2 separate regions of the Homo sapiens genome follow, and region 1 is linked to region 2. The links come from fine-mapping of genetic effects on gene expression. Tissue or cell type: whole blood. Region 2 holds a variant in brackets; the other region holds the start of a gene. All regions are shown on one strand. Distances are between the middles of the regions.

Region 1 (5,000 bases), 390 kb before region 2:
CAAACAAGGTCCTTACTCTCATGAAGCTTACACTGTAGTAAGAGGAGACAGACAATATAAGATGATGATAAATTCTGTGAAAACCATAAACAACTGTGAGGTTATAAAAAGATGGAGTGCCTATGGAAAGCTTTTTGGTTGATAAAGTCCATCAGATTAAGGTTATTAGGAATGTACTTGTAATCAGTACATCAGTTAGGCTTATTAACTTGCTGCAGGACACTACGGAAAACCACAGGGAACTTAGGGTTGAGGGTGTGATTTTTATAGGGTTGGCTTCCCTGATTGATTCAGGGAACCAGGTATCAACTCTGGAATGGTGCTGTCATGAAGTGGGGACAATTTAGTTAAGCGAATGACTGAGCAATTTTTTTTTTTTGAGACAGGTTCTTGCTCTGTCACCCAGGTTCTGGAGTGCAGTGGTGCAATCATGCCTCACTGCAGCCTGAACCTCCTGAGCTCAGGTGATGATCCTCCCACCTCAGCCTCCCGAGTAGCTGGGACTACAGCACACACCATCACACCTGGCTAGTTTTTGTATTTTTTGTACAGATGGGGTTTCACCATGCTTCCCAGGCTGGTCTCCAACTCCTGAGCTCAAATGATCCGCCTGCCTTGGCCTCCCAAAGTGCTGGGATTACAGGCGTGAGCCATTGGGCCCCGCCCAACGGCAATACTTATTCAAAAGGTGAGAAGAATAAAGTAGGGTGGGTAAGTAATTGATCAGTAAGCCTTTTGGAAGAAGGGGTGTTAGTAATTTTGCACCTATGTTATGGCCCTGAGAGAAACACTGTTTCCTGATGCTCTTGCCGTTGGCATTATCTATGCCTATGACAGTCTGAGTTATACTTTCTCAGTCCTGGGCTGATTTTTATTTTTCATTGTGGAGGAATTTTGAATTGACACTTGATTGATGAGGAGCCAGGCTTACTAAAATCCAGGGTAAGAGTCAGAGATATGTATGCACCCTAGCCCTGGCTCTGCTACAGTGTGTGATCTTGGGCACGTTTTTTCTTTTCTTTTAAAGACAACTTTATTAAGACATAATTTCTATACAATATATTCACTCATTTAAAGTGTACAATTCAGTGGTTTTAGTATATACACAGAGTTGTGCAACTACCATCACAATTTTAGAACACCTTCATCGCCCTTAAAAGAAATGCCACACGCTTTAGTGGTCACTCCCTATTTCCCCTAACCCTCCACACCCCACCCCACCAGCCCTAAGCAACTGCCAATCTACTTTTTGCCTTTAATAGTTTGGGGTCCACCAGGTGCACTGGCTCACGCCTGTAATCCCAGCACTTTGGGAGGCCTTGGCTGGTGGATCACTGGAGGCACGCGCCACCACACCTGGCTAATTTTTTTTTTTTTTTGAGACGGAGTCTCGCTCTGTCGCCAGGCTAGAGTGCAGTGGTGCAATCTTGGCTCACTGCAACCTCCACCTCCCGGGTTCAAGTGATTCTCCTGCCTCAGCCTCCCGAGTAGCTAGGACTACAGGCGCGCACCACCATGCCCAGATAATTTTTTGTATTTTTTTGTTTGTTTGTTTTTGTTTTTGAGAGAGTTTTGCTCTTGTTGCCCAGGCTGGAGTGCAATGGCACAATCTCGGCTCACTGCAACCTCCACCTCCCAGGTTCAAGCAATTCTCTTGCCTCAGCCTCCCGAGTAGCTGGGATTACAGGCATGTGCCACCACGTCCAGCTAATTTTGTATTTTTTTTAGTAGAGACAGGGTTTCTCCATGTTGGTCAGGCTGGTCTTGAACTCCTGACCTCAGGTCCCAAAGTGCTGCATTACAGGAGTAAGCCACCGCACCCGGCCAATTTTTGTATTTTTAGTAGAGACGGGGTTTTGCCATGGAAACCAGCCTGGTCTCGATCTCTTGACCTCATGATCCGCTTTCCTTGGCCTCCCAAAGTGCTGGGATTACAGGCGTGAGCCAGCGCGCCTGGCCAATTTTTTTTTTTTTTTTAAATTTTTAGACGGAGTTTCACCATGTTGGCCAGGCTGGTCTCGAACTCCTGACCTCAGGTGATCCACCCGCCTCGGCCTCCCAAAGTGCTAGGATTACAGGCGTGAACCACCACGCCCGGCCAAATTTGGGGAGCAATTTTCTTAATCTCTTTGTGCCTCAGTTTTCTCTTCTACAAAAATGAGACGACAATTGTACTACTGGTCATAGAGTACTAAGAGGATAAGCGAAAACTGAGTGACATTGCCTATCAAGAGCCTCGTATAAAGTCCGAGAGGTTCAGGTCTGTAAGTCAGAGTCCGCCTCCTGGTCCCTAAACGCTCATTTTAATCCCACGCCCCTCCGTGACACGCCCCTGCTGTCTGTCTCCAAGGCAACGCCCAACAGTTTCCTCTCCGGGATTCCTTTCCCGGGGGCAGTCTCTTTTCTCTCCTCACCTGACGGCTCCCCTCCGCGCCTCCGGGGGCTCCCTCAGGCCTCCCCACGGTCATTTCAGCTGGACAGAGGCAGCAGCGACAGTGACAGCGATAGTGGCAGCAGCGGTGGCAGCGAGAGCTATGCGGGGCCAGGGTCCACCCCTTTCTAGCTTTGGCGTCTGGTTGGCTTCCAGGGCAGCCTCCGATCCATCCCGCCCGAGGAGGCAAGGTTCGTTTTCCGATTGGCCTATTTTCTCCGCGCATTTTATTTCCGGTTCTGAGGACGCCGCGGAAGCGGGACGGGATTGGAGTGCTCTGCTCCGGACGCACTACGTAGGTGGGCCTGCGGGAGTTCTGAGTGCGACGGCGCAGGTCTGCACCATGGCGGCCCGGCTTGTCAGCCGATGCGGGGCTGTGCGTGCAGCTCCCCACAGCGGCCCGCTGGTGTCCTGGCGCAGGTGGTCCGGCGCCTCAACAGACACCGTGTATGACGTGGTGGTGTCGGGTGGAGGCCTGGTGGGCGCTGCCATGGCCTGTGCCTTGGGTAAGCCCTTCTCCAGGCTACTAGTGGCCGGAAACCGGGCCGCGGAGGCACGATGAGAGCCGTGAGAGCCCTAGCACGACTTGCCCAAAGACAATTTCTCAGGTCTCGCGACGCTTCTCCCCTCCCCTCCTAGAGGAACCCCAGGGCACGCCGGAATGCGTGTGGTCCTTCAGGGTCCATTAGGGTCAAAAGTGGGAGGGGCGTTCAGAGTCTGTTCTACTCATGGGAAAACAGGCCTTCCCGGGGTTATTTATAAATGAGAGTTCCAGTTTCTCCAGATCCTGGACAGTACTTGTCATTGTCTTTTTGTTTATAGACATTCTAGTGGGTGTAAGTAAAGTGGGATCTCCAGGTTTTGACTTGTATTTCCCTAATGATTAATGATGTTGAATATCCTTTCATATGTTTATTGGTCATTTGTATATCTTCTTTAGAGAAATGCCTATTCAGACCCTTTGCCCGGTTTTTAATTGAGCAGTTTGTCTCTTGAATACTGTGGTAAGAGTTATTTTTATTTTTTGAGACAGGGTCTTCCGCTGTGCCCAGGCTGCAGTGCAGTGGCACGATCACGGCTCACTGTAGCCTCAACCTCCCTGGCTGAATTGATCCTCCTGCCTCTGCCTCCCAAATAGCTGGGACTGCAGGAATGCGCCACCACTCGGCTGATTTTTGTATTTTTTTGTAGAGACGAGGTCTCACTATGTTGCCCAGGCTGGTCTGGAACTTCTGGGCTCAAGCAATCCACCTGCCTCAGCCTCCCAAAGTGCTGGGATTACCGGCATAAGCAACCCTGCCTGGCCATTATTTTGTTTATTCTGTATAAGTCCCTTATCTGATAAATGACTTGCAAATATTTTCTTCCATTTTGTAGTCTTTTCACTTTTTTTTTTTTCCCTGAGATGGAGTTTCGCTCTTGTTGCCCAGGATGGAGTACAATGGCACGATCTCAGCTCACTGCAACCTCTGGGATTACAGGCTTGTGCCACCATGCCTGGCTAATTTTTGTATTTTTAGTAGAGACGGGGTTTCACCATATTGGCCAGGCTGGTCTCGAACTCCTGATCTCGTGATCCACCTGCCCCTTCCTCCCAAAGTGCTGGGATTACAGGCATGAATCACCATGCTTGGCCCATTATGAGATTTTTTTTTTGTGATTTTTTTTTTTTTTTTAGCTCATCAGCTATCATTAATATTAGTGTTTTTTTATATGTGACCCAAGACAATTCTTCCACTGTGGCCTGGGGAAGCCAAAAGATTGGACACCCTGATCTAAGGGCAGCTGTTCCACCCTATGATCCTCATCTCACAAGATACACAAAATTTAACTTAAAGCAGATCATAGACTTCTGTAACAGGGTGGTTCTCATGGCTGCTTGGGAGGCTGAGGCAGGAGAATCGCTTGAAACTGGAAGGGGGAGGTTGCAGTGAGCTGAGATCGCGCCACTGCACTCCAGCCTGGGCAACAAGAGCGAAACTCGATATCTCAAAAAAAAAAAAAAAAAAAAAAGAAGATAGTGCCCTTTACAGAGCATGCTCTACAGAGCATGTCCCTGTGCCCCATCCTCCACAGCAAAAGCTGCCAAGATGGACCGCTCACTGTCTGTATGGCTGGAGCTAACTTTTTTTTTTTTTTTTTTTTTTTTTGAGACAGAGTCTCTGCTCTGTCACCCAGGCTGGAGTGCAGTGGCAGGATCCCAGCTCACTGCAACCTCTGCCTCCCAGGTTCCAGTGATTCTCCTGCCTCAGCCTTCTGAGGAGCTGGGACCACAGGCGCCCGCCATCACACCTGGCTAATTTTTGTGTTTTTAGTAGAGATGGGGTTTCACCATGTTGCCCACGCTGGTCTTGAACTCCTGAGCTCAACTGATCCATCACCTCAGTCTCCCAAAGTGCTGGGATTATAGGTGTGACCCACTGTGCCTGACCTTTCTTTCTTTTCTTTTCTTTTTTGTAGTTTTTGAGACAGGGTTTTGCTCTGTCCCCCAGGTAGGACTGCAGTTGCACAAACATAGCTCAGGTGTGCCACCATGCCTGGCTAGTTAAAAAAAATTTTTTTTTGTAGA
Region 2 (5,488 bases):
AAATTTTCAATATAGGTGTCCTTAAGCAGTTTCTCCCCTTTTACAGATGTTCTATTTTTTTTTTTTTTTTGTGAGATAGGGTCTTGCTCTGTTGCCCAGGCTGGAGTGCAGTGGTATGGTCTCGGCTGACTGCAACCTCCGCCTCTTGGGTTCAAGCAATTCTCCTGCTTCAGCCTCCCGAATAGCTGGGATGACAGATATGAACCACTAGGCCCAGCTAATTTTTGTGTCTTTAGTAGAGATGGGGTTTCACCATGTTGGCCAGGCTGGTCTCAAACTTCTGACCTCAAGTGATCTGCCTGCCTCGGCTTCTCAAAGTGCTGGTATTACAGGTGTGAGCCACCGCACCCAGCCTCAGATCTTCTTTATTTATTTACAAAAAGAATGCATTCTTGTGGCAAAAATGCAAACAAAACTGAAGTGTGCAAAGTAAAAAAGCTGGCCAGGTGCGGTGGCTCACGCCTGTAATCCAGCACTTTGGGAGGCTGAGGCAGGCAGATCACCTGAGGTCAGGAGTTTGAGACCAGCCTGACCAACATGGAGAAACCCTGTCTCTACTAAAAATACAAAATTAGCTGGGCATGGTGCTGCATGCTTGTAATCCCAGCTGCTCGGGAGGCTGAGGCAGGAGAATTGCTTGAACCTGGGAGGCGGAGGTTGCAGTTAGCCGAGATTGCACCATTGCACTCCAGCCTAGGCAACAAGAGTGAAACTCTGTCTCAAAAAAAACCCGCCTCTTTCCACAAACCTCTTCTCCAGGGTTTTCCATTAGTTTGCTCCATTTATAGTCTCCCAGACACTTCTTTCTACTCCCTAAACACGTGTATATATATATACATACATAATAGATAGATTTTTGCAAAAGTGGATTCATAAGATTTATTTAACTCTGAAATCCCACTTTAATTTGGCTATCTTTCTGGGTTAGTTCCCATAGATCTATTGACACATCAGTAGTGGGTAATATAATTGAACTAAAATGTTCCCTCCTGGTGAATCGCTTGAACCAGACGGAGGTGGAGGTTGCGGTCAGTTGAGATCGTGCCATTGCACTCCAGCCTGGGCAACAAGAGCGAAACTCCATCTCAAAAAAAAAGTTTCCTCTTGGTAATTTTTTTCGCTATTTTCCTCTAGGTGACTTTAGAGAATTGTCCTTTTTCTTTCTCTCCTCTTTTTCTCCTCTTTTCTTACCCCTTTGGCTTTAGATCTTATCTAGATGCTAACAACTCCCACACTTACTTCACTCTTACCTGGAACATTTTGTAATTTTACGTATTTTGAAAATTTACTTTGAATTGGGTTTATGCCTGTTCAGAACATACTGTCCTTGAAGAATGTATTTTTGTATCTGTTTGTACTGATGAAAAGAAACTCTGGGCCAGGTGCAGTGGGTCACGCCTGTCATCCCAGCACTTTAAGACTGAGGTGGGTGGATCACTTGAGGTCAGGAGTTTGAGACCAGTCTGGTGAACATGGTGAAACCCAGTCTCTACTAAAAATACAAAAATTAGCTGGGCATGGTGGCACATGCCTGTAGTCCCAGCTATTCGGGAAGCTGAGGCAGGAGAATTGCTTGAACCTGGGAGGCGGAGGTTGCAGTGAGCCGAGATCGTGCCACTTTACTCTAGCTGGGTGACAGAGTGAGACCCTGCCTCAAAAAAACAAAAAACAAACAAAAACAAACAAACAAACAAAACAACAAAAAAAGAAACTCTGGAAGGAAACTAATAAAGGTGGTTGCCAGTGTGTGGTAATGGGGGATGAAAGGAGTTGGGAGTAAACTAACCAAGACCAAAGATACTAGGCCTGAGAGGAAGAGCAGGGTGATTGGGAGACGTTGAGTTTGGCCTTGTGGTCTTGTTTCCCCTTCATGGATGAAATAGAGAGGGCTGAAGAAATGCAACAAACTCGGAGGGGAAGGACCACAAGCCCTTGAAACTGCTTCAGGGCCAACTGTTCCCCTAGTGGGTACCTGTGCCTGTTTTCTTGGGGTGGGAGAAGGGCTGAGTTATTGACAAGCCTTCTTGCCTCGCCAGGTACGTTTCCTGAGGACAGCTGCTCTGTGAAGCCCACTGCCCCAAAGGCACCTATCAAAGACCCTGCAAACAAGCAGATGGCAATCCAGGTTGCCAATGACATTGCCCATCCCAGGTACCTGGGCTGCCTGCTTTTCCCTGAAGTGGGAGCCTGGCTTGCAGGTAAGTGTCCTTCCCCTTTGCTCCTTTAAAGTGATACTTCACTCCTCAAATAAAATGTTTCATCTTTTTATTGTAAAAGTTATTAAGCACACCCAAAATGAAAAATGGTATAATGAACCACTCAGAATGAATAGTAAAATGAACTCCTGATCCAAAAAGTATCACATTGTGCCATATATATTCTTTTTTCTGATTAAAAAAATCAAATCCCTGACATTTTATTCCTAAATTCTGAAATGTATATCTAAAAGTTTAGAACATTTTCCTATGTAACCATCATACTGTTCTCACTCCTAACAAATTTAACATTAATTGCTTCGTATACTCTAATATCTAATCTATATTCACACTTACCCCTAAGTGAAATGACTTAAAGCCATGAATAATGTTAGATTGGAGTTGCAAATGAAACCAGAGAAGCCAGCATCAGCCTGACAGCCCTCTTAGCACAGATCTCTGAGAAACGCCAGTACCCAGGAATGAGGGGCTCAAGAAATACTTGTTACTTTCCTCAGTAATAGCAAGTCATGGTAGCTCTCATTATGAGCTCTTACCATAGAGAATTTGCTATGCACTCTTCTGTCCTGACTGGAAGACTGCGTTCACTCTTTGTGTGTCTTCCACAGAGCTGAGTATAATGCCTACACAGAGTAGATGTTTAACAAATTGTAATTTGTTTTTTGTTTTAGAGATAGAATCTTGCTCTGTTGCCCAGGCTGGAGTGGAGTGGCATAATCACA[G/A]CTCACTGAAGCCTCAAACTCCTGGGCTCTAGTGATCCTCCTGCTTCAGCCTCCTGAGTAGCTGGGACTATAGTTGCATGCCACCACATTCAGCTAACTATTTTTATTTTTTATTTTTGAGATCGAGTCTCACTCTGTTGCCCAGGCTGGAGTGCAGTGGCAAGATGTCAGCTCACTGCAACCTCCGCCTCCTGGGTTCAAGCAATTCTTGTGCCTCAGCCTCCTGAGTAGCTGGGACTACAGGTGTGAGCCACCATGCCCGGCTAATTTTTAGATTTTTAGTAGAGATGAGGTTTCACCATGTTGGCCAGGTTGCTCTCGAACTCCTGACTTCAGGTGATCTGCCTGACTTGGACTCCCAAAGAGCTGGGATTACAAGAGTGAGCCACTGTGCCAAGCCATTTTTTTCTTTTCTTTTTTTTTGAGACAGGGTCTTACTAGGGTGCCCAGGTTGACTTTGAACCCCTGGCCTCAAGTGATCCTCCTGCTTCAGCCTCCCAAGTAGCTAGGATTACAGGTGGGAGCCACTAATTGTAATTTGAATTGACAATCATATTTCCCTGGTATTATTTCCTCAGGGCCAAGTAGTGTTATGGCTGTTTTATCAGATCATTTCATTGGCCCTGTAAAGTAGATATCACTCGCCCCATTTCACAGATGAGGAAACTGAGGGTCAGGCATGTTCAAAGTTCTGTAACTAGGAAGTAGGGGAGCTGAGACTCAATTCTGGTTGCTCTGACTCCAGAGTCTGAGTGGTCATCCATCTCTTGGTAGTCACCAAGGGACTCTGGATGGGGGAGTAAAGGTCTCAGTCCTGGGTACAGGCAAGAGAGGGTAAAAGAGAAGGGTGGAGGAGGGGGAGAGAAAAAGGAAGGAGAAAGAAAGAACAAAAGAAAAAGAAATCAGGGTGGGCATGGTGGCTCATGTCTGTAATCTCAACACTTCAGGGGCCAAGGCAGTGGGAGGATCACTTGAGCCCAGGAGTTCTAGAGCAGGCTGGGAAAAATAGTGAGGCACCATCTCTACTAATAAGAAAAAATTTCATTGGGCATGGTGGCACATGCCTGTAGTCCCAGCTACTTGGGAGGCTGAGGCGGGAGGATCGATTGAGCCCAGTATTTTGAGGCTGCAGTGAGCTGTGATTGCACCACTGAATTCCAGCTTGGGCAACAGAGAAGACCCTGTCTCAAAAACAGAAAATAAAAGAAGCTAGGAGAACATGTCATAAAAGTAAGACTAGCAGTAATTGGATTTAAGGCCTTTGTTTACAGTGAATATAATAGGTGTTTGTTGTGTTGTAGAATGAATGAGAAGCCTTTTCTTTTTTTTGAGATGGAGTCTCACTCTGCTGCCCAGGCTAGAGTGCAGTGGCATGATCTCAGCTCACTGCAACCTCTGCCTCCTGGGTTCAAGCAATTCTCCTTCCTCAGCCTTCCCAATAGCTGGGAATACAGGTGTGTGCCACCACACTCAGCTAATGTTTGTATTTTTTTTTTTTTTTTTTTGAGACGGAGTTTTGCTCTTGTTGCCCAGGCTGGAGTGCAAGGGCACGATCTCAGCTCACCGCAACCTCCGCCTCCCAGGTTCAAGCGATTCTCCTACTTCAGCCTCCCTAGTAGCTGGGATTATAGGCATGTGCCACCACGCCCGGCTAATTTTGTATTTTTAGTAGAGACGGTGTTTCTCCATGTTGGTCAGGCTGGTCTCAAACTCCTGACCTCAGGTGATCCACCCACCTCGGCCTCCCAAAGTGCTGGGATTACAGGCGTGAGCCACCGCGCCCGGCCATGTTTGTATTTTTAGTAGACACGGGGTTTCACCATATTGGTCAGGCTGGTCTTGAACTCCTGAGAGGTGATCCGCCTACCTCCGCCTCCCAAAGTGCTGGGATTACAGGCGTGAGCCACCATACCCGGCCAATGAGAAGCCTTTTGAGTTTCAACTCTCACACTCTAAAGTCTAGAGTTCAGTCTGTAGACATCATTGTATTCCTGGGGCTAGCCTGGAACCTGGCACATATTAAGAGCTCAAATATCTGTTGAATGAATGACTGAATGTATGAATAAATGCACAAGTGAATAAATAAATGATTGAATGAATGATGAATTATATGAAATAACAATTTATTTTTATTTTTATTTTTTGAGACGGAGTCTTGCTCTGTCGCCCAGGCTGGAGTGCAGTGACGCAATCTCAGCTCACTGCAGCCTCTGCCTCCTGGGTTCAAGCAATTCTCCTGCCTCAGCCTCCTGAGTAGCTGGAGTACGCGCAGCCACTCCCGGCTAATTTTTGTGTTTTTAGTAGAGACGGGGTTTCACCATGTTGGCCAGGATGGTCTTGATCTCCTGACCCTGTGATCCGCCTGCCTCGGCCTCCCAGAGTGCTGGGATTACAGGTGTGAGCCACCGTGCCCAGCTGAAATAACAAATTATTTAACAAGTCATTGAGTGAATGAATTAATTGATGGGACAGATGGATGAATTCTTTAAATCTCTGTAGAAAGAAGGTGAGTAGGGAAGAGAATAACTGAATAGCAGCACTATTTACTGA

What was found. PIP is the estimated chance that this variant, and not a neighbour inherited with it, causes the effect.
Region 1: it holds the start of FAM161B, and the variant in region 2 is fine-mapped to the expression of FAM161B in whole blood (TOPMed, PIP 0.97).

Annotation. Positions count from the first base shown.
Region 1 is chr14:73,947,559-73,952,558 of GRCh38, forward strand. FAM161B (FAM161 centrosomal protein B) reads right to left here and starts at 2,536. Exons shown (of 9, transcript NM_152445.3): 1 at 2,415-2,536. The coding sequence starts at 2,468. COQ6 (coenzyme Q6, monooxygenase) reads left to right here and starts at 2,744. Exons shown (of 12, transcript NM_182476.3): 1 at 2,744-2,937. The coding sequence starts at 2,775. RefSeq lists enhancers at 2,426-3,426, 2,443-2,502 and a silencer at 4,496-4,794.
Region 2 is chr14:74,335,687-74,341,174 of GRCh38, forward strand. It overlaps a transcript of VRTN not described here. Among named protein-coding and RNA genes, the nearest start is that of VRTN, 10 kb to the right of the region's middle. The variant G/A (reference allele first, on the strand shown) is at 2,939.